Linked DNA regions of Homo sapiens: region 1 is linked to region 2. Evidence: fine-mapped expression QTL. A gene starts in region 2. The other region holds a variant in brackets. All regions are shown on one strand. Distances are from middle to middle.

Region 1 (10,898 bases), 110 kb after region 2:
TCCAGATTGACTTTAAACTTTCTGTGAAACCAAATGTATTCTGTGAACTTATTCTAGGTTGATATCTTTCTACCAACATCCTGAAGTACATTACATACAGCAGAGAGGGCCTCAATAATCTTTCTTCTTTTATTTATTTATTTTTTTATACAGGAAGGAATGTTGCTGTCCTTAATACCTCCCTTGCTAATGCACTTGCAAGAAAAATAATCCACTTCCCCTTGGAGGGCTGAGTGTGCTGCCAAAAAAAAAAAAAAAAAAAATTTGAGCTTATAGCATTTGTTGCAAATCTGCTAAACATTATGTTTGCCAAATTCTTCCTAAAAATTGCTATCACATTTCTGGGAAGACACTTGCTGAAAGGAAAAGCTTGTACTGCTTTAGTAGTGGTCAGCTGAAATTCAACCTCTTCAAAGTAGAGCTTGTCATCCATTGCCCACCACCTCCCTCCTGACTTAAATTCTAGGAGGCCACCCTTCTTTTATTTATTCTAGTTTAAGATGCTGAAGGTGTCTTCTTATTTCTCAGGACTTGTGCAATTACGATAGTTTCTTACAAAAGATAAGGAAGAACAAAAGAGATCAGGACCTGAAATATCAACAAACTCCTGGGAAAAGCACAGGAAGAACATCTTGAGGGAAGTATGGTTAAGAGCTATGGTGCTAGAACAGAGACCTGGATTCAAATCCCAAGAAAATGGATGACTTCCTTCGCTTGTCTTATTCCTTATGTGTAAAACAAAATCTATACCAGGAATTCAATGAGACGTTGTATGCAAAGAGCTTACCATACCACCTAGCACAAAGTAAGACCTTGATAAATGGCAGCTATCATTATTATTACCAATAAAGGCAAAACTAACTGGGTCAAAAATAAAGTATCCACTTGGTGAAGCTGCTGCAGGGGACAGTCAAGGTATAAAGAGGCAGCAGTCAGGTTCAAGGGGAGGGGCAGGGGGAAGATAATGTTTGCTCCTGGGTGTAGCAGGAGCACAATGATGGGGAATCCAGGTGCTGCACAAAATGCCCAATTCTTGACAGCATGTAGTGAGCATTTTAAAAAGTCTCTCCATTGGCAGAAGGAATCTAGTTCCCAGGTGGGATTTTACTGGTCAGAGTCTTGGCTCTAGAGACAATGATAGCATGAGTAAGACTACATCTCCACCCCAGAGAAACAGACAAAGGGCTGAGGACTGAGAGAGCCACTAAGGGTCAGGGAACAAATGGAGAGCTCAGTTTCCCAACAGGTCTGACCCCGGATGAGATTATGGCTCAAAGCTGAGTTACCTAACCGGTCTAGCCACCTGAATCTCACCTGCCAAGCCTTTTCAATGGTTCCTCCCAGCCTATAACTGAAAGAAAATTTTAAATAGTAACAATATTGGCATTTTGGAATGGCTACTGCCTAGGGGAAGAGGCACCCATACACATAAAAGTTTACTGCCAGTACTGGGGCTTACACATCTTCATAAGCCTAATGGAATTTTATGCAAATATGGGATAAGTAAGTGAACTTTTCTGGAGAAAGTATCCATAGTTTTCAGCAGTCTCAAAGCAGCTCATGACCCAGCAGGCATGAAGGATCAATGCTTTAAGTAAAGATGTTACAATCTACCTCTTTCCTTCTCATCTTTATTTTGATGAAATGTTGGGTGAGTTGAATGGTTTCATCTTCTATGGCAGAATTTTCCCACATGCTTGGGCCTTCAATTATCACAATAACTTCCCATTTGCTCCCCTCACTTTTTCTTATAAGGGTTTATCACAACTTCTGGTTCATTAAGACATTCTATTCTTATAAATTGTGGCCATGTATTTAATACATTTTATACCTTTTATAGTCATGTCAGTAGGTTCTGTTGGGTGGGGATTACTGCAGAATGGGGTCAATCTGTCACCTTGAAATTGAAGGGAAGTGTCTTAATCTTCTCTCATTGCTTCTATCTTCCCACAGTCTCTTGGCCTCCCATGCCTTTTACTACGCCTCTTGCTTTTTCAAAGCTCAGCTCAAGTTCCAGATTCTCTTTGGAAGCTTCTGGGATTACTTCAACCCTCAGAATTCTTTCCCTCTTCCAAAGTATATAACATTCATTTGGTGCTGGGAAAGTATATAAAGGAATTAGCATGTTGTAGACAGGACTTTTTCAACCTCAGGACTATTGACATTTTGGGCTGGTTAATTCTTCATGTGGAGGCTTGTCCTGTGCACTATAGAATATTTAGCTGTATATCTGGCCTCTATCAACTAGATGCAGTAGCACACTCCCATCCTCGCCCCAGTTATGACAACCCCAAATGTCTACCAACATTAGGGGCAAAATTACCTCTAGTTGAGAACCAGCGTTGAAGAATGATCCCCATGTATCAGGTAATGTACTAGATTATATAGCTTTTATTTCATGGGTATATCCTACTTTCCTACGTTTATCTTCCCTTTAATTCAGTTCACTCACTTATTTTTAATTTATTTTACATTGCGTCTTAACCTTTGCAAAACACTTTAAATCTTTTTTTAAAACAAGGCAAGTTATATGTAAACACTCGTTGCTTCTTTTAAACCTTGGCACAGCCCTTGAAAAAAGATATTAGCAACGCTGTTTAACAGGCAAAGACACTGACTACTAGAAATCTCTGTTCAATAACTGAACAAAGTCCAAATAACAAACATTGGTGGAGCAAAGACTCAATATCAGGATTTTCTGGTTCCAAAGACCATGACATTTTTGTGCCACAATGCTATTTTTAAAAATTGGTACACATTTGTGCATATTTATGGGGGTACATACGGTATTTTGATACATGCATAAAATGTGTCACAATCAAATCTAGGTATTTAGCATATACATAACCTATAACATTTATCATTTCTGTGTTGGGAACATTTCATATCTTCTCTCCTAGTTGTTTTGAAACATACAATATATTATTATTAAATATAGTTACCCTACTGTGCTATCAAACACTAGAACTTATTCCTTTCAACTGAATGCTTGTACCCATTAACCAACATCTCTTTATCCTCTCCCCCAATACCCTTCCAGCCTCTGTTAACCATTATCCTACTCTCTACCTCCATGGGATCCACTGTTTTACCTCCCACATATGAGTGAGAACATGCAATATTTGTTTTTCTGTGCTTGGCTTATTTCACTTAATATAATAACCACAGGTTCCATCAATGTTGCTGCAAATTGCAGGATTTCATTCTATTTTATGGCCCAATAGCATTCCATAGTGTGTATATATACCATGTTTTCTTTATTCATCCATTGATGGACAGCTGACTTAATTCCATATCTTGACTATTGTGAAGAGTGCTGCAATAAACATGGGAATGCAGATATCCTTTTGATATACTGATTTTTCTTTGGATAAATACCCATTGGTAGAATTTCTGGATCATGTGGTAGTTCTATTCTTAGTTTTTTGAGAAACTTCCATATTGTTTTCCATAATAGCTGTGCTAATTTACATTACCACCAAGAGTGCATAAGAGTTCCCTCTTCTCCACATTTTCACAAGTGTCTTTTTACTTTTCGTCTTTTTTATAATAGCCATTCTAACTGGAATGATGTCTCATTGTGATTTTCATTTCCCTAATCATTAGCGATGTTGAGCATTTCTTCATATACCTACTAGCCATTTGTATGTCTTCTTTTGAGAAACGTCTGTTTAGATACTTTGCTCACATTTTAAGGAGATTGTTTGGGTTTTTTGTACGTTTGTTTTTGTTTTTTGATGGTGAGTTGTCTGAGCTCCTTTTATATTCCAGATATTAGTCCCTTGTCGAATGAATCATTTGCAAATATTTTCTCCCATTCTACAGGTTGTCTCTTCCCTTTGTCGGTTGTTACCTTTGCCGTGCAGAAGCTTTTTAGTTTACTATAGCTCCATTTGTATACTTTTTGTTTTGTGTGCCTATGCTTTTGAAATATTAACCATAAAATCTTCGCCTAAGCTAAAGTTCTTGGGCATTTCCTATGTTTTCTTCTAGTATTTGTATAGTTTCAGGTCTTACATTTAAGTCTTTAATTCATGTTGAGTTGACTTTGGTATATGGTGAGTCATAAGGATCTAGTTTCATTCTCCTCCACATCATGGATATCCAGTTTCCCCAGCACCATTTATTGAAGAGGGTGTTCTTTTCCTAGTGTATGTTCTTGGCAACTTTGTCAGTTGGCTGAAAATCTATGAATTTATTTCTGGGTTCTCTAGTGGCACAATGCTGTTTTGTTTACTTTCTTTCCATAGGCTTATCCTTCTCACCCAACTGAATTTTAGCCTGCTGAACTAGGATTGCACCTGCTATCTCTTGGGAATAGTGCCCATTTCTTATAGTGGCATAGAAATAGTCAATCTAAAAGAAAAGCAGACTTTTAGTTCTTCAGAAACCCCCAAAAAGAGAGAATGAAGGTATAAAAATCTGATACTAAAAGCACTTATTTTCTGTCATTTATCTTAAACTACAGTGAAACTATTCAATACTTTTGAAGGTCCAGAAAATACATTACAGAAAAAAAAAATCATCTCAATGATTACTTTAATGCACAACGCTTAGTTTTATGGCGTTTCCCTCATTTCCTCAGGAGAAAGCTATTTCTCTAACTTATTTCTTTCAATTGATTGCTAGGATTTCAATCTCTTTAAGACCTTTTGCATTAGAGGAAGAAAGAAGTCTGCTATTTTTTTCTCAACTTGGGGAGTCTGAAGTTTATCACATTCTTTCCCCATTTAACCACCTACAGACTTGAATTTCAAGAAGACAAATTGTCTTTAAGAACATAAAGTTAAAAACCAAAGTATTACATCAGCATCACATCCTCAAAGTTGGAAAAGAAGAGGTTAAATTTCTTCTACTAACTCTTAAAAGAGATTTAAAGAAAAGGGATATTGAAAAATGGACTTCTCAAAGGAAAAAGGAAAAACACACACACAAAAGGCATGTGCTGCATTTTCTGCCTGAGTTAGTTTATCTCCTGAATTTCCAGTTTCCTATCACTAGGAGGACATAGTATGGCATGACCAGAAAGTCTGCTGAAGTTCCAATTATTTTATGTCCCAGGCAATTTCACGCAAATTTGCACTTTTAATCGGAACTAAAATTCAATGAGGTCAATACTTTACAGTTAATATTTCATTAGGCCCAGTGACTAACTGACCCACTACCAATACACAATTCTAAGTCCATGTGCTGCCCATCAAAGAAGATTCTGATATATCTAAAGCTCCCCAAACTTGGTCAGGAAGATTCTACTTAGCTTTAAACCAAAAATAAACCTTCATTAGAGTTAAGAGATATAACTATATTAACATCACTATATTTAGAAGAAAACTGTTATATTAATCTTTCCAAACCACCACACATGGATTGGCACTCAGAGTACCTGCCCCAAAGAAATGAGAACAGGATTTCTGGGAGGTGGCACAAATCTTGGAAATGATTTTAAAGAACAAGGTGAGGTTACTGGTCTCACAACATTTAAGAATGGAAACATTATTTTGCCATTTTTCTTAATTGGAAGGCAGCAGGTACAATAGAAAGTTCTGGACATATTGAAGCATAGATTTATCTTTATTAGCTGGAAGCTCAGGCATGTTACTTCACCTCTCAAGGCCCATTTTTAGCAAGAGGTGGACTAGATAACCTTCCAGCATTAATGTGATGTGAATCTGTTATGCTTACTTTATCTTCATGCTTTTAGAACCTGAATAGGAAAATCAAATTATTATGACTTTACATTACCTTCAGTCTTTTTCACTTCAAAGTTGCAATGTCTTTTCCCTGGCTGGGTCCTGTTACTCATCCCTGTGGTAGTCTCTCAAACTCCATCACCTCTCAGACTTGTTCTCTTCCCACAGGCAGCAACACAAGAATGGTGGTAGTGAGGGATAAAAAAATTTTATAGTAAAAAATAAAATTAAAACCATATGCCTAACTCATAAAGCTTTTTGCTTTTCTCTGTG[C/G]GTTTCCTTGTGCTAGTGTTCCTCTGTAGGTTCTTTTCGCCCTTAAAAAAACAAACAAAAAACCCCTCATAAGCCCTTCTCTATCCTCTTGTCATAGAGCTTATTTATAGAATACATCTTATCTGATTCCTCATAGCAAAATATTATTTTACAATTTGAGTTCAGAAAAAGATAATATTTATTTACTCCTTACCATATGCTAAGCACTGTTCTATATACTTCATATATATATATATATATATATATATATATATATATATATATGGCATTTAACCCTCAGAGAACTCTATGAAATATGTATACATATTCCTTACTATCCAAATCTATTCAGTTCCTGAGTTCTGTGAGCAAGTTTTTATGATCAGGGAAACTGCATTGTCTTTAATTATCTTTAGCACCTCCATTTGGAATGATGAAGGGCCTGAGTTTAGATAGCAAGTAATGCTGTTAAAAATGCAAATACAAATACATTTAGTTCCTTTGTTGCAATGGTAATGGTTCAGAGAGGACAAATTCATTAGCCGGGTATGGTGGCATGCACCTGTGGTCCCAGGTACACAGGAGGCTGAGGTGGGAGGATGGCTTGGTCCCAAGAGGTTGAGGCTGCAGTGAGCATGACTCAAAAAAAAAGTCAGAAATTCGGACAGTGAGAGAGATATCTATGCCATTTTCTCTACTTTTACAGAAAAGAAAGAAAAGAAAAGGAAGGAAGGAAGGAGAAGGAAGAAGGAAGGAGAAGGAAGAAGGAAGGAGAAGGAAAAAGGAAGGAAGGAGAAGGAAGAAGGAAGGAAGGAGAAGGAAGGAAGGAAGGAGGAAGAAGGAAGGAAGAAGGAAGAAGGAAGGAAAAGGAAGGAAAAGAAAAAAGAAAAAGTAAAGAAAGACAAGAAAAGAAGAGGGAGGGAGGGAGGGAAGGAGGAAGGAGGAAGGAAGGAAGGAGAGAGAGAGATGAAAGAAAGAAAGAAAGAAAGAAAGAAAGAAAGAAAGAAAGGATGCACAGTGCATAGGTAGATAAGGAAACTGCCTAAGGTTTCATGGCTAATAAGATACAGAGTCAAAACTCTTATCCAGGCACTACAGCTCCAGAGTCAATATTATGCTTGTGTTAGACTGCCCAGCTAAATATTATTTTTCTTCTTTGTGACCTGTGGCATCATTTATGTAGATAATCCTTGTAGATTTTCTGGGAATGTCTTTGGGGAGGTTAGCCAGAGTTCCCATCTGATTTTTTTTTCTAGAGCTCCATTTGTTAAAAGACTCCGAGTATGTGTTCTATTAGCATCAATATAAAAAGTTCTAGATACTGACACCAACTGCTTTTTGTACAGCTTAACAGTCTAATCGCATGGTTTGTGGAACCCTAATGTTCCATTTAGTCACTGTATTTGATGAAATCTGCAACATGGATGATATAAATGATCTTTCTGTCATACAGAAACAGGAAAAGCAGACTTCGACAGTAGATAAATCCAAGTTGAAATGTAGTCTATCTTAAGTTCTTATTCTGGGCAATCCCTCATAATCTCTGAAAACTTAGGGCCTCTTCAAATCATTGCTTGTCCTCAAGCAAACATGTTGTATAATCTGACTTCCATGCCAGTTAGGTTCACACCAGTATTTAGCCATTTAATATTTCCTAAAGTATTTAATGAATGACACCAGCAATGAATTTACTTAAGAGCCAGTCAGGGCCCTCATGAAATAGTGCAAAATCACAGGCACTCTACATCATGATGAGTTGTTCTCATGTGTCAGCCGACTGCTGTCCAACTGGAAAACTAGAGAATAAATTCATGCTTACATGTTAAATAGAATTGTGTTTGTTAAACTGACAGATAGTATCTTCATGAATTTTAGTGAAAAAAAACTTATGCTTGATTTCAAAGGTCTGTTTATATGTTCACATAGCAGTGAGGCTGGGCACAAAATAGGATGGAAATTACATTCAATCAGTAACAATAAAAAGAAAATGTATCTCATCTCCTTGGAGGCCTTCCAATGATTCCGACCCTGGCTATGCCTTCCAGTGCTGTTTCTGTGCCACCATGTGGTGAAAAGATCAAAGGTATGTGGCAGCATGCCAGGAGGTCCAGGAAGCCAAACTTTAAATGGTGCATACTCCTGGAGCCCTACTGCAGTTCAAGGAGGGTAAAAACATCATTATAGTGAATTTTAATGCAGAAAATACGTGGGTTTTGCACAAAACTCTGAAACTCAGAATGTTAAGGTGAAATTTCCAAGCATGCAGCTAGTATCCCTGGTGATTGCAGATACTCTGGTGGGAAATGCTGAGATTCAGTGCTCGAAGGTGCTCAAAGAGAACTCGGTTTCGAAGATCTAAGTTTTAAGCATGACTCCATCACTTGCCAGCTGTGTGACCTTGGACACATCTCTTGCCCTCTAAGTTGAGTCTCTATCTGTGCAAAGAGTTTAAATTACATGATCTTTATGGTCCTTTCCAGCTTGAAAAGGCTGTGGTCCGTGTTTATGTTTCAGAGCTCTGACTGCCTTATTCTCCTGTTACATAATTTCTAAGAGAAGGCATATGTTACTTAGCATAGAGGTTTCATATCCACTGTGAAATATCTCTGGGAGATTCCAAAAATCTATTTAAATCTAAGCTGCTAGTATTTCACTCATTAAGCTATTATTGCTCACCTACTGAAGACTAAGCAATACTCCCAAATACAAGATACACACCATAGAAAATAAATTCACCAATATCCAGATTTTGTCAAAACTCTTATTTCTTTTCTCTGAGGTCTCAGACTCATCAAACATCCAAGGATAATTTTAGGATTCACTAGGCATTATCTGAGTATATCTCCCTGTCATAAAGGTTCATAGTTTTGTTTTTAATTGAAATATCTTCAAATGCTTTTCCTTCTTAAATAAATGCTTACATAGGTAACATAAGTGAATCTTACTGAGTCAGTGATAAAAATTCCCTGAAGTAAACATAAACTCCATAATGCAGTTATTTTTAAAACTTTATTTTAAAAATATGAGCATCTATTTTAAAAGTTTTGATAATTATTGCCATTATTTTCTTGTGATTGGTACAATTTAAAAATAAGTCTATGTTTTCACATTGATTTTAAAAAATATAGCATGTTTGAATTACAAATGATTAAGCAAACTCTATTACTTCATAGCTGACCATCTTCCAGAAAATTCCCACTTAATTGAATACTTAGAAAAAAATGGCCAGTGGCCGATTGAAAGGTATATTAAAATTAAGGGCAGTTTTAATTCTGAAGACAAATATCTTCATGGAAATCTATTTGTAAGCTTCTGAGATTGCTGCTGAAAGTCTACAGTCTGTGAATATACCAATTCCCCTTTACAACTGATGCAGATCATTATGAAATACTGGAAGGCATACCCTACAATTTAGGAATTGGTGTGGCTGCCACTGCTATGCTCTCAATTGCACACTCATCAGTTCCTCTGCGGATCCGGAAGTAGCCATTCTCACCCCAGCCGGTGCCCCAGCTGTTTTTAACAATCCAGTAATCCATCCCAGAGGCTGAGTCAGTGCCATAGCCCACAAGCAGAACAGCATGATTAGTCAGCTCAAAGGGGTTGAAAGGGTCTCTTAGACCAGTGTGGTGGTAGATCCCCTTTTTGTAGTGGAGGAAGTCATCATATACTTCAAAAGCAACTGCCATGGGCCCATGATGGACCAACTCAAGCTTCATCAGGGCTTCATTGCAGCCTCCATAGAAACCTCCTACATAGTGGTACTCAGAGGAGTAATAACGAAAGCAGTCTTCCTTCATTTTGCATGGAGAATCAGTGCCTGTGTAGGGGAAGCAAGCTTCTTCCACCAGCCCAAAATCTTGGGCGTACTTTCCTGCAATAAGGTATGGGAAGCCGCCTTCACAGCCTGAAGATGAATAACACACATGGTTACCCCTTAGTAGAAAAAGGATTATCCCATTTTCTATTTTTTCTTCTTTGCTCCATTATTCTTTGCATGTTACCCCTGAAAGTTGTTCTTAGCTTAAGCATCACTTCATTCATCCATCCATTTTCCAACTAGCTAACTATCCTTTCATCCTCCTTCTACTTAACAGATATCTACTTAGCACCTAATATGGATGTAGCTATGGCAAAGTGGTTAAGTGGGGAGGCTCTGAAGCCTATATAGGTTTAAAGCCAAAGCCGTGTGAAGAGTTTAACTTCTCTGTATCTCTGCTTACTTACCTGTAAAATCTAGATGGTAGTAGTACTTTCCTCATAGGGTTAAATTAGTTACTTCATGTAAAAATAGCAAAAGTTAGGTATTATGGTCATTGCTAAGCAGCCAGACCCCACAACTTGGCTCTTTCTCAAGCAAGTCTTTTCCCTGACAACCTCTTGCCGAAATGTCTTTCCTACCTTCCTCATGCAGTCCTGGCCCTATTATATATATTATAACTCTGTACTTTTTCTTCACTGTTCTTCACTCTGTTGTTATAATTATTTAATCTCTATCTCTTACTTAACTGTAAGCTTCATGAGGATAAAGATTGTCTTGATATATTATAGCCCCTATAGCCTACAAGTCACAACTAGTAGTACATATTTTAGAAAGAATGAAAGGCTCACTGGCAAATAATCACTCATCAGCAGTTTCACTAGTGAGCTGGGAAATTCCTAGTGGCCAAATCTGGGCTTGAAAGCATAAACTTTAAAATGGTAACGTTTCTCCCTCAATCAATTATAGCTGTGTTTTCGACATACATCACATACAGCCTGATCTGAAAGCCTAAGTACAGATTTTTTTTTTTTCATAACAGGGCCTCACTCCGTTTGCCCAGGCTGGAGTGCAGTGGCATGATATCGGCTCACTGCAGCCTTGACCTCCTGGGCTCAGGTGATTCTTACACCTCCGCCTCCTGAATAGCTGGGACTACAAGCACACACCACCACGCCCAGCTAATTTTTTGTATT
Region 2 (13,107 bases):
AGTTTTAAAGTCATCTGCATAGAGTTAAAGCCCTGGGAATGCATGAGATCCTCAAGCAAAGGAGACTGAATTAGAGGGCCAGATGATGAAATTCTGTCTCAAGTTGTGCAGCCCTGACGCACTCACAGGGAATGACTGGTGCTAGGTAAGAGCACAAGAAACATCACACTAGCCTTGAGGTTTTGTCAACTTCCTCAGATTTAGTCTCAGAGAGTAGGAGAACGAGGTGTGGACAACATCTCTGCACCATGAGAGTGTTCTGAAGTTATGTCTATCAATGCTCTTTACTTATTGTTACAGTGATTTGTTTTTGTGTCATCATGCTGATGAAGCTGGGATGAAGAAGTAAATCTTATTCAATTATTATCCTTCTTTGTTTTTCCCTCACCTAAGTACTTTCACATACCAGGCACTTTATATATACATACATATATTTGCTGAAGAAACCAATCACACATATAGAGCTACTTTTTCCAATCCCCTCCCACTCTCAAATGCCTTAGCTTTCCTTGGTCAAGCTGCTACTTGCTTTTCTATCAGAATCAGTCCTCTAAAACCCAGATGACACGACATGTCCTGCCTTGAGGCGTTTTCTCCATATATCCCTCATTCCTACTTTGAAAGTTCACCATTTTTGCTCACTGTACACATTATTTACCCGTAAGAACATAGCATGTTATTTTACGTGGCATTTAGAAAATCTGTAATTAGCTAAGCTAGAAACAAGGCAATAAACTGCCCAGTGGAGCATGGCTCAGACTCGATATGCATTTTGGGGGGTTTTATTTGACACACTCATCGCCAAATTTAGCTCTTTCTACATTCCTAGACCTACTACTTTGACATTTAAGACCCATCTTCTACAACTGCTTGAAGAAATAGTCTTTCAGAAATCGGTACTAAAGAGATAGTTAAGTCCGAATCCTATCTTTGGTTGAATTTCACAACCTGAAAGAACTTCACAAACTCTAAAACAACATAACAATGTGACCCAAATAAGTGTCAGAGTTGCTGGTGTGAAGAGTCAGTTTAAGGACTCCTGACACTGGGCCTGGGCTGCCTTCATCCTGTTACTTTGTCTATGGGACAGTTAATGTATTCTTCTGCTGTCATGTCACATGGCTTAGGTGGGGGAAGCTGGTATAGATGTGCCTTGAGTGGAAATATTTTTCTTATAGGGTAGATCTTATTTTAAGTATTTAGAGGCATTTGTTATTTAGCAGAGCTCTGCAGTCAAACTTTTACATAGCAAAGAAACACTCGAAACACTCTCTAAATTGTCTGCCAACTTAATTTATTTTCCACTATAGCAATATAAAACTGGATTGGGTTTTTTTATTACCAACAGACTTGGTTATCTCACTCATACAAGTAAGCTGAAGCTAAACAGACCGACTGTTCCTATTCTCCTCTGCCACTTATGATCTCAGGCAACTCTCTTACCTCTCTCATTTTTTATCTTTTTAAATAAAATTGGGTTTAGGACTATCTGCTTGTCTACACCCTCAGCAATGCTGGGGAGATCAAGTGGGAAAATGTATGTGAAAACAGTCTGTAATAATAACAATTATGACAACAGGAATAATAGCTAACACTCATTCAGCATTTATTATGTGTCAGGCACAGCTTTGCATAAATTAACTCATTTAATTCTTACAAAAATACTAAGATGCAGGTATTGTTATTATTCCCATTTTACAGACAGAAAACGAAGGCACAGAGGCTAAGTAACTCACACAAGTCACAAAGCTAGTAAGTAAAGAAGCTGGAATAAATGACCATGTGCTACCTATACCCTGAGGACAGTGATAATAAACCTTTTGCTTACAGAGACTACAAAAGATAAAATAAGTATCACAGGAAAATTAAATAATCATCATTTTATAGATGAGGCAATTGAGGTTCAGCAAGGTTTCACAGTTTGCCTAATTATATTTTCAGAGTATCTAAATTTAGAATATATTTAAACTATGTCTGAAGTGCTCTGTTTTCAAATTAAGGACAGTAGAGCAAATCTTTTGAAAACAGATTCAATGGTCAATTTTAAATTCTAGTGGCCTAACCAGCTATTATACTGGGAAATTATAGATTAAATATGCCTGGACATTCATAAGAATAAGGGCTTAAGAAATATTAGCTACTATCCCTATAAATGTCCCAATGCCTAGATCAGAGTCCCAAAGCACATCAAGAGTTCTAGACAAGATAGTACAGTTCTTTTTGAAAGGGTGAATGAGCAATTATAGTCTCTGGATTTGGAGAGTAATAAAAAAGTGGAGTCTCAAGTGTGAACTTTTTGTTTTCATTTTCCCTAAATGACCTATTTTTTTAAAAACTCTATAAATTCACATCCTAATCAAGATAAAATTTTCAGAAATAGATTTTAATTCATTCCTTTTCACTGAATGCACAGTGGTACTTAATAATACCAAAAATCCAGTTAGAAAGGAGAAGGTAAGTTTAACCCACCTACTAATGAAACAACACCTTTAAAAAGAAGGCATAATCCCTGTGGGCCAGCTGTGTGCCAGGCACTCACAGGCCAGCAAGTGCAAACAGCAAGGCTTGACTCTGAGTGAAACGGAACCGGGTCAAATCTGGCTCTTCCTCTACTAGCTGGGTGGCCTCAGGCAAAGTTACTTCATTTCTTTGACTCTATCAGGAGCCTCTGAACACACAGCTGACCTTCTAGCATGGAATCACTGGAATCCAGGCCAACTGCTGTCCCCTATGGGGTTTGGTGGGATTTATCATCTTGTTTCAAGGCCTACTTCACAAGACCCCAGAGATACTTTTTGGAGTCTTTCAAGATCAGACTGGCCAATCTACATGGCTATAAGAGACACATCATGGGAATTTAGTAGATTAAAAAGGGCCCTATTTGGCATTGAACCAAATGAGTATCAAGAGTCTAGCTGAGCCAAGATTCCCTTAATAACAAATGTATATGATATCCTATCAGAACAGTGCAGGTCTTCTCTATCTCATTGAACACCCACAACCTTCTCAAAGCTAGGCCCACTAACCTCCACTACCTGCTCTCTCCGGGGACACACCAGAGTTGAACACTAAGGACGGAGAGATGCATTCTTATCTGTGGACAGACAGGCTGTGATTTGAAAGTACTATAAGGTACACCTGGCTGACTGGAGTCTGGGTGGGCAGTTGAGGTTGTATTTCACATGAACTCATAACCCACATGGCTCCCTATGCAGCTTAAACCATGAAACATGGAGCACGTGCATGTTCCAACCATTTCCTACAGTGGCCTAGCTTTCACCCAATTCACTGTGCCTGCTGTCCAATCTATAATTCAGCTAACAGGGCCTTTGGGCTTAAGGCTGCTAAAGACAGGTTACCACTGAGCATTAGAGCTCTGGGAAAAACAAGCTCCTCTACTGAGATGTTGAATGTAACACCACCGCAGTATCTGTAGAATGAACTTCCCAAGACTTCAGATTTCTTATTTATACAGACTTCTGTGACTACAGCCTCCACTGCAACTTCAGTCTACAAAACATGGCTAACGAAGTGCTTTCGAGCTTGGGAGTTAAATTGCTCCTGAGAGTATGTCAGGAGCAAAGCTGAAAATGGTGATAACTTGGGGACAAAATATATATGTAATATTGGGATCACAATTTATTAGGAATTAATAAGCACTTGTATATCATATCCTTCTTGCCTAGCATTTATATAGGCTTAAAAAAATGGTAGCTAGTGTGATAATAATCCTTGCAGATCTCCTAGAGAACAGGCATGATCACCTTCAGCTAGCACTGTTGGTTGCTCACCTGTCATCTATTGGGAGAAAGCATTCTCCCTGTTTACAAGTAAGGAAACCAAAACAAGGAGGTTAGAGAACTTACCTAAGATTGCCTACTACATGCAGAGTAAAGTAAGGATCCAGATGGAGGCAGTTCAACTCTGGAATTTGGGCTATTAATCACTGTACCCTTCCATCTCTTCTGTTTATGTGAGGAGACTGAAATCTACAGACATAGAACTTCTCTGCTGTCATGCTGTTACCTGGATTGTACACAGAAGTCCAAATTACAGCTACATCCCCGTTTAAACAGTAAGCCGTTTCTAAATCTGAATCCTGAGGACTTTCGAGCAGCCAGAAGGGTTTTCAGACATTATGACATGCAGCAAGAAAGTACACAGAGAGAATTTTTTTAGATGAAAAGCCCCATCCAACAGTGGCTGATAACATTTTCTGTTCTCTGATAACCCCCTTGCTACTAGAGCAGCTGAAGATGACTCCAAATGCATGAATCTGTTCATCTGTTCACATGCTAAAAGAAAAAGGCCTGGCAGTTCATGATTAAAGAGGCACGAAAGTCCCCAGATCACAAATGCCCTTTCAAAAATTTTCCACATTTGTTCTAGTTTCAAGCCATGATAAAGAGTTTCCAATCAAATGCATCAGCTAAAATGAATCCATTTTCTGAAACAGAAGTGGCTAGTTTGGGTCCAGCACTTATAACGAAAGGTTCCTGGTGTCACAGACCATGAAATAAGACTGTTTGAAGTTGTTCCCATGGAGAATCCCAGAGGACTTTAAAACTTCTGAGCAGGAAGATCCTTGACCCTTGCCCAACTCCTTTCCACTTAACAGCGATGCAACTGAGCTGAAGAGACTTGTCCAAAGCCACTGAGCAGGTTAGTTAGTGGCAGGGCTAAAATCTGTAATGAGGGGTTGGTCATGCGCAGGTTGCAAACAGCCTTGTCCAAGGATTCACACTTGGAGTAGATACATTGCACCCTCACTTTTGACTAGGCCTAACTTCTGGTACAAACCTGTGGAGTCAAAATCTGATTTTAAATATTGTAAAAAACAAAAACAAACAACCTCTCATTTTTCAGATCTCTCAATGAAAACTTTAGGGCCAAATCAAGAAATCATAAGGCTATCATAGGCCCTTACATAAAAATGGCCTTAAAATATACACACAACCTCCTTTTCATAGAAGACAGAGAGCCAGAGAGATAGAAATACAGAAAGAGAGGGAGAAAGAATACTTTGCCCCTGACATATACACACAAAAGTACTTGGCTTACTGTAAGCAAAAAGCAAAAAAAAAAAAAAAAAAAAACAAAACAAAAACCCTCAAACTCCTTTGTCTTAAGGGCAGAGAGAAAGGTGACAAAATTTGAAATAAAGTGAGCCACTGAAGACAGGAATGGGCAAACTCCAGCTAGCCTGGAACTATCCCGGTTTCCTCTGTGAACCAGCCTAGGGGCTTCCCCTCGGTCCGCCCCTGCACGGAAGGACGTGCGTGACACTGGGCTGCGTCATTGGCAGAACTGCCCGCGCCCAGAAAACGAGCTGGAGTGGAGAACAGAATGCAATTGCAGACAATCTTCCTCTGGTTCCCTGGGGAGGCCTGCTCTGGGCAGAGAGATCCCAGGGGACTGTGCGGGAAGGAGCTAAAGCAATAGCCCAAAAGCGCCAGGGAATGCACTTGAAGTTTCAGACGTTTTTCTTTTCTTTGAAACTAAGTTTCCAGCCCACCAGGAAAAACTGCCTCGCGACCTAGTGATTTTAATCTCACGCTTGGCCGCAAGCCGCTGCCTCGAGACTGGAAACCGGCCGCGAGGCGCTCTATCCCCCTGACCCCCTCCCCCCGCGCTCACCTGCGATATCCCAGAGCTGCAGGCGCACCACAGTCTCCGGGTCCCAGTGGAGCACCTTGAGCGCGAAGTCCACGCCGATTGTGGCCCGGTAGTGCGAAGAGAAGTTCTGGTGCACGTAGCGCTTGATGATACTGGTCTTCCCCACGCCCAGGTCGCCAATCACCAGCAACTTGTACAGGTGCTCCTTGTGCGGGGCCTGCATCCTGGCGGCCGGCCAGACGTGCCGTGCCTGACCAGGGAAGCGCAGCCTGGGCTCTGCGCACGAGAGAGACTTGGGGAGCGCAAGTGTAGGTGCAGAGAGAGGCGTGGGCGGCGGGGCGGGGGCTGGGGGGCGGAACTCCTCCCCTAGGGGTTAATCCTCCTTCCTACTCCGCGGTCTTGGAGAGGGGAGGAGACAGGAGCGAGTCCCGGGACTGGCAGCTGAAAGGGGTTCGCGTGTGGTTGCCTGTTGCAGCGCTTATTTATCCGGCGCTTTAGAGTTTCCGAAGAGCTGTTTTCACCTGTGACCCTGGCCACAAACTTGTGAGGTGTGGATCTTATTTTCCACGTTTTGCTTGCGAGAAAACTGATTGTGAAAAAGTACTCTGCGGGAGATGGCCGGTGAAAGGCCCCGTTGACCACAGGTCTGAAGTCACAGGCTCTTAACTACCCCACACTGTAGAGAGAAATTACAGTATTAGGAAGCCCAAGACTGGCTGGGCTTGGTTCCTGCGTGCCCTGGTTTTTAAGTTGAGGGACCATAAGTAAGTCATTTGAGCTCTCACAGCCTGTTATTTCTCAATGAATGGCAATGCTGACCTCTGAGCAGCTTGGAGGTGGGAACACTGAGCACTTTCACACCCATTCAACTGGTAATCAGTTAACAAGGAGGACAACTGGGCCGAAAATGCCAAGGGCACTGGTGACTTTTAGCCTCTTCCCATATCCTAAAAACTCAGAGCTGCACAGAAAGACAGTTTTAACAATCGGTCAGATTATTACAAATAATAATAATGGCAAACATTTATTGAGCACTCGCTATATGCCAGAGGGTTTATAAATTATGTCATTTAGTCATCCCAGCTGTCTTAATAATAGATACCATTTTTCTTCCTATTTTACAAATGAGGAAGCTAAGGACCAGACATTTTAAGTAATGGACCCAGAGTCAAATAGTAAGGAAAAAAACCAAATTCAAACATAGGTCTTTAGGTTCCCAACTTCTTTTTGTTGTTTTTGTTGTTTGTTTTCATTCATTTGACCAATATACATTTTATTACCAATTAATATATGACAAATTGTACTTATTTTGTCTTGTCTGTCTCCACCTACAAGAAGGTAAATTTTTTTGAGGCCAGTAGGCATTGTCTGCGTTAGGATTTCTGTATCATCCTCCTAACGCAGACAATGCCTACTGGCCTAAGAAAAATTTACCTTCTTGTGGGTGGAGACAGGACAAGACAAAATAAATACAATTTGTCATATATTAATTGGTAATAAAATAAGGCAGAAAGGGGATGTGAAGAGATTATATGGGGTTTGCCTTTTAGATAGGGTGGCCAGGGAAGGTTTCAGTAAGATGGAGACAATTTAGTAAAGACATAAAGAAAATGAGAAATTGGGCATTCAGGGCTAGGGGGTGAGCAGTTTATACCAAAATGAGCTATTTTGTACCTGAATGTGCTGTGAAGGAGCTCTGCTCACATTCTATCATTTCATCTTCTCAATTGCTTTATGAAGTGGGTTATTTTCTTCAATTTATAAATAAGGAAACCAAGATTAACAGCAGCTTTCTCAAGGGCACACATAACTAGTATGTGTTAGAACTAGGACTTAAACACAGGCCTGTGTGAAAGGGAGAAAGGAGGTTTGGCAAGGCCATTGTCTTTCTGCCTTCCTCTTCTGGCCTGACACTCCCTAAACTTTAGCCTCCACATGCCCCAAACAAGCAGAGGGATGCTGAAGATGTGTACCCGGGACAAGTCACATAACCTCTGAGCCTTGGTTTCCACATCAACGAAAGGAGAATGATAATACCTATGGCAGGGCATGGTTGCTCATGATTGTAATCCAAGCACTTTGGGAGGCTGAGGTGGGTGAATCACTTGAGGTCAGGAGTTCAAGACCAGCCTGGCCAACATGGTGAAACCCGTCTCTACTAAAAATACAAAAATTAGCCGGGCGTGGTGGCAGGTGACTATAATCCCAGCTACTTGAGAGGCTGAGACAGGAGACTATCTTGAACCAGGGATGCAGAGGTTGCAGTGAGCCAAGATCACACCATTGCTCTCCAGCCTGGGTAACCTGAGCAAGACTCTATCTCTAAATAAATAAATAAATAAATAAATAAATAAATACAAATGAAATTGTTGATAAAATGCTGGGTCCATAGTAGGTGGTAAATAAATTGTAGCTATTACTATGAAATGAGGGACAAGCTTAAAATACTGTCCACAGGCACTGTCCTGTGCAGTTTCATCTTTCCTCAGAGAGTAACTCAGAAGTTTTGCTCAGAATGGACACTAAGTGACAGTGTGTAGAATTGCAGTCGTTTGTGTTTTATTGAAGTGCTTAGCTGGGTAGGCCTCATTTACTGGTTTCCACCCATGCGAGGACACACCAAGAAGATCACATCTAACAAGTGAGACAAATACTCTACCTGCTTAAAGAATTAGCCAACAATGTCACCTCACTTCCCAGGGAGGGGAATTCAGTAGCCCAAGATGCTTAAGCCATTCTAAATGCCTGCAAAATTAGGGAGGATGACAAAATGAGACCTTTGCCAGCTCTAAAATCCTGGGTCTGTAAATCTGAGAGACAGGCTTTGTCTGGCCAACAAGCTCCTGGGGTAGAAACAAGGTAGGAGTTTGAGACATCTTGTGGGCCAGCCTTCAAAATTATACCCAACCCAACTTTCTTACCAGCCCCGTACTGTTTTCCCAAGCCTGGTCCCGGCAGAGTCATCCTCACCCTTATCTGTTCTCTTTTGAGCAAGAGCATATTGGAACATCAGACATTTGGATTTATGAGGTAGGACAGGCAGGGCAAAGTTCAGGATTTCTGGTCCTGAAGCTGATAAAATTGGAGGAAGTAGCTTTTTGAGCAAAAGAATGCAAAATCAAAAATATATAATTAGGTCTAGGGCCTTGGAAGGGGTCCTGAAGCTTCAGTTTTATTGCCTCTCTGGGGGTAGGAGATTCCTCTCTCAGGGACAGCAGCCAACCATGGTGAGCAAGTTCCTTGGCCAGGCAGGAAGTATGTGCAGTTTTGTTTCCAGCCGTACTCATTTAGGTCTCATGATCATTCTTCACAGTGGGAAGAAATTACTCTCGGTTTATATTTTTAAGACTTTTAGATTACAGTAGCTTGGTAAGCACCCCAGCCTAGCAGTTCAGTAAAATCTTCGTAAAAGGCGCCTAGGTCTCTGAACCTGAAAGTCCCTTGGGTAAAATGAGGGAGTTAGGTTGCAAGATCTCTGGAAAGTCCTTTGGACTCTAAAATATCAGAATTCTGGGTCTTCTAGACATTGTCTAGTAGGAGTGACACCCTAGCTGATTCTAGTCACCCCACAAGAGCACCACTGCCAAAGAGGTGATGTTTTCTCTCCTCTTTTAGGTTTGGAAGAAAGGCCATCTCAAAGCAAACATGATGCCATAGTTCTCCTCTGGTTTCATGGTGCTATTCTTTCCTCTGCTGCTGTACATTTTCCCACAAGACAAAGGCAATCCAAGAACATTCTTTTTGGAGGACAAACCTTCATGTACTCCCCTTCCTTGCTTTGAACTTATTTTCTACACTCAGAACTAGGCTGCAGACAGGGAGCCAGGTAGCCAGGGACAAACTATAAACTGGATCAAGCCAGACAGTGAATAGATGGAAAGGATATTATCAAGCAGCTAGACCATTCTTGCCTCCTCTTTCATTCAACCCTGTCCCCTGCAATTATGATGCTTCTTCAGAACCTATCTTCCCCAACCTGAACATATACCTGTCAAGATGGCTTAGGATTATCAGGAGGATCTCAGCTTTTTCTGACACAAAAGATCCAGTGCTTCCTCCCCATGGAGAGAACAGCTGTGCCATTCGTCCCCCTCCCAGCAGCCACACTGCACCATGGAAACCTGTTCTCCACAGTAATTCTCAAAACATCTCTGGTGATGTTTTGACAAGCTTACTACCCTCAAATTGCTAAACCACAGCACATCTTCTCACCAAGGTCGGGAAGGCTGATGACTCAAGTTTGTAAAAGGTGTGTGAGACCACAAAGTGCTCAGAATTCAAGCCAAGAATGATATCCCAGAAGGCACAGCATTAGGTTTCTCTTAGTCTCCATTCCCTTTCTGTCCAATGTGGGTACTTAGTCTTATGAAATGGAAAAACTACAATGATTGCAAATTGCTTTGCAAATGTAAACTTGAAGGGACAAACCCTCATGTTTTCCTCCTAGAGCTGCTGTGTTTGGTGAGCCCCTGTGAAGTCACATTATTTGCTTTTGCCATTAAGAGAGCCATGGGGAGTTATTCATTAGCTTATGTGAGCTTTTAATTATTGCTCTGAAGAAATATGTAAATGACTGCAAGATGGGGTCCCAAGGGCTCTGTTATAGAAAAGGTAATCTAATTTTTCTTAGATTAATACAAGAAATATATCTTACAACAGATGAATTTTACTCTGCAAAAGGCCTGGAAGAAATGACCATATATTTTATCATTCAAACTATGACTCTTGAGAGTGAAAGGGGGCACTATGAATAATTACACCAAACAACAGGAACAAGCCAGGACTTTCCTAAAGAATATTCATTCCTAAAGAAGAGGGAGAAGTTGAGGCTCTCAAATGAGATCTACAGCTATAGGGGCTTTGGAAAATTCTCCTAAACCACAATTTTAATAAATAGGTCTGCCAAGTTAAAGTTGCAGCTTATTTCTTTCTTGTCTTCAAAAAGTTCTCTCTTTACCCACTAGGCTTGTCTGAAACCTGTGCTAACTTGCAATTTGAGTCATCTAGTATTGATTCAGGATTGCAGCAGATGTCTAGAAGTAGGAAGCAACTTTTGGGTTATTTGGAGAGAGGCCAAGATGGATTCTGTATGGGATGTTCTTGAAATAAATACTCTTCAGTCTATGAGAAATTTCTGGCTAGATTTTTTTCCAGAAAAAAAAAGACTACAATAGGATATTTACGGGTTATCATGAGAAACTGATTGTAAGTGCATTTTTTAACCCACCAGTAGTATGAATCAAGAAAACCAGAGTATGACCTAAACCATTTTCAGCAGTGTATTTATCACCAACTAAAATTATGTGCCTTAGCTGTGCCAGACAGGCATGGCTGAATCGGGGTGTATTTTTCTACTAACACATCTAACATGGATGAGTGGAAATAAGCTATGGAATGGCCGAAAGGCAAGCATCTGAGAACATGGAGAAAAATGATTCTGTATGTACTAGAATTTCAACTTCCTTATCCTGGGAACCTACAATGAGCTAAGCCCTTTATCTTGGTAAGTTTATTTGATCTTCACGACCACTCTGTAGCAAGTATCTTCACTTTATAATGAGGGAAATAGGGCTCAAAGAATTTAAATAATTTTTCCAAAGTCACAGATATGGAGTGACAGCATGAGAATCGTAACCAGTAATTCCTAAATCTGTGCTTTTTCTACTATACCACACTCCTTTAGCATGTGATAAATTCCAGGTCCAGGCTTCTACTGTAGCTTTGTTTCTGCTATGCTACTAAATATTCAGGCTATAAAGAAAAGAGATTGATTCTATTTCCATTTGATAAAGTCTTAACTATGCAGGGAAACAGCCAATAAAGGAAGAAAAGAAAAATCTATGATTCAAAGATAAAAGGATATATCCCATAATCTCTCACCAACTCGGGCAGAAAGTCAACACAAGTAAAAGTGGCATGCTGTGCATTTGTGGGGAGAGGTCTGACCCAGTGCACATAGAGAGCATATACAAGGAATCTACTTCTGTTGCTCTCAGAGAAGGCGATAGGATAGTACTGAGGCTGTACAGTGAATGAACCCCTATTCCATAATGGGTGATGACAGAGAGACTGGTAGGGTCTAGCTCAGAAGGTTAACGCAAGAAAATTACTGACAGACCATCACAGCATAAACGAAGAAATATTTATGTACAAAGCATTGTAACAGAGTTTTTTGAGGATCAGGGTCAGAAGAAAGGTCTCACGTTTATCTCAAAGAGTGTATAAGATATAAGTCCCTGCCATCAAAAATGCTTCCATTCTGGTTAAAGCATCAGCATGTATACACATGACCTTCTGCCTTCCACTCTGACCTTCTTAGACTCCTTCACAACTTCCCTTCTTTTCTGCCCATCCACTAAAGTTTGCTATTCTTCATCCTTGGGACTCTGACTTTCCCTGCTTGAGCTCATCTACTCCTGTGACAATAGAGCAAATGGGGTTAGGAACTCTGGAATCAGGTGAGCTTACCTGATTTCACATTCAAGTTCTACCACTACCCAGTCATAAGAACTTTGTAAAGTAGTTTAACTTTTGCAAGCTTGTCCCTTCATGTATAAAATGAGGATAATAATTTTAACCTCCTATTTTTTTTTTGAGAAGACCAAATAAAATTCTGTGAAGTGCTTAGCATAGTGCTTGGCCCAGGATATGCACTGAAAAGAACATGTTGTTAAACTATCAAATGTCTGCTGATGATTTCTATATCTGTATTTAAAACACAACCTTACTCCTGCATTCCATAAACTTGTTCCAACTGCCCGTTGGGCATTTCTACCAGGCTTTCTGGCAGACAGTTTAAATGCAACATGTGCAAAACTGAACTCATTATCTACCCTAACAGACTTGTTCCCTTTCCTGTATTCCTGGTTTTTGGTCAGTGGTTCCACCCTCACCAAAGTCTACCAAGCTCAAAAACTCAGTCACTCTTGATTCCTCTCTCTTTGTTACCCATCTCAGACAAATTCCTGACAGCATTTCCACTACTTCACAAAATTACTATTATAACAAAAAGGTGAATATTTATGCATTATTATTGTGGAGAAAGGACCTTTGAATATTATGTGAAAGGCAGAAATAATAAAAGGAAAAAAAAAAAACTAAACGTGTAGACATTAACAATTACCAGAAGCAAGAAAAATGATACTTTCAGAATGAGAAAAATTTTACAACATTTAAGACAGGCAAAAGGAAATATACCTTATATTAAATTGTTCTAATAATTTTTTAAACACTAAATTAGATAAAGATATAAATAAGCAATTGACCACACAAGACAAACAAAAAGCCAATAATGTGAAAAGTGTATTTTTCACTAGGATAGTAATAAAAGTATGAAAATTAAGCAATAATGTAATACCATTTTTTACTTTTTAAATTGACAAATATATTTTAGTACTAAAAATATCCAATTTTGATGAGAATGTAAAAAATGGATACTATCATATGATCCTGTGGTGGGACTAACATAAGAAAAAGTTGTTAAAGGGAAAT

The links. PIP is the estimated chance that this variant, and not a neighbour inherited with it, causes the effect.
Region 1: its variant is fine-mapped to the expression of RAB38 in whole blood (TOPMed, PIP above 0.99).

What each region holds. Positions count from the first base shown.
Region 1 is chr11:88,284,660-88,295,557 of GRCh38, forward strand. CTSC (cathepsin C) reads right to left here. Exons shown (of 7, transcript NM_001814.6): 7 at 8,933-9,849. The coding sequence ends at 9,347. Among named protein-coding and RNA genes, the nearest start is that of CTSC, 48 kb to the right of the region's middle. The variant C/G (reference allele first, on the strand shown) is at 5,964.
Region 2 is chr11:88,169,546-88,182,652 of GRCh38, forward strand. RAB38 (RAB38, member RAS oncogene family) reads right to left here and starts at 5,898. Exons shown (of 3, transcript NM_022337.3): 1 at 5,638-5,898. The coding sequence starts at 5,839. It overlaps MIR3166 (microRNA 3166), which reads left to right and starts at 6,957; the gene lies at 6,957-7,048.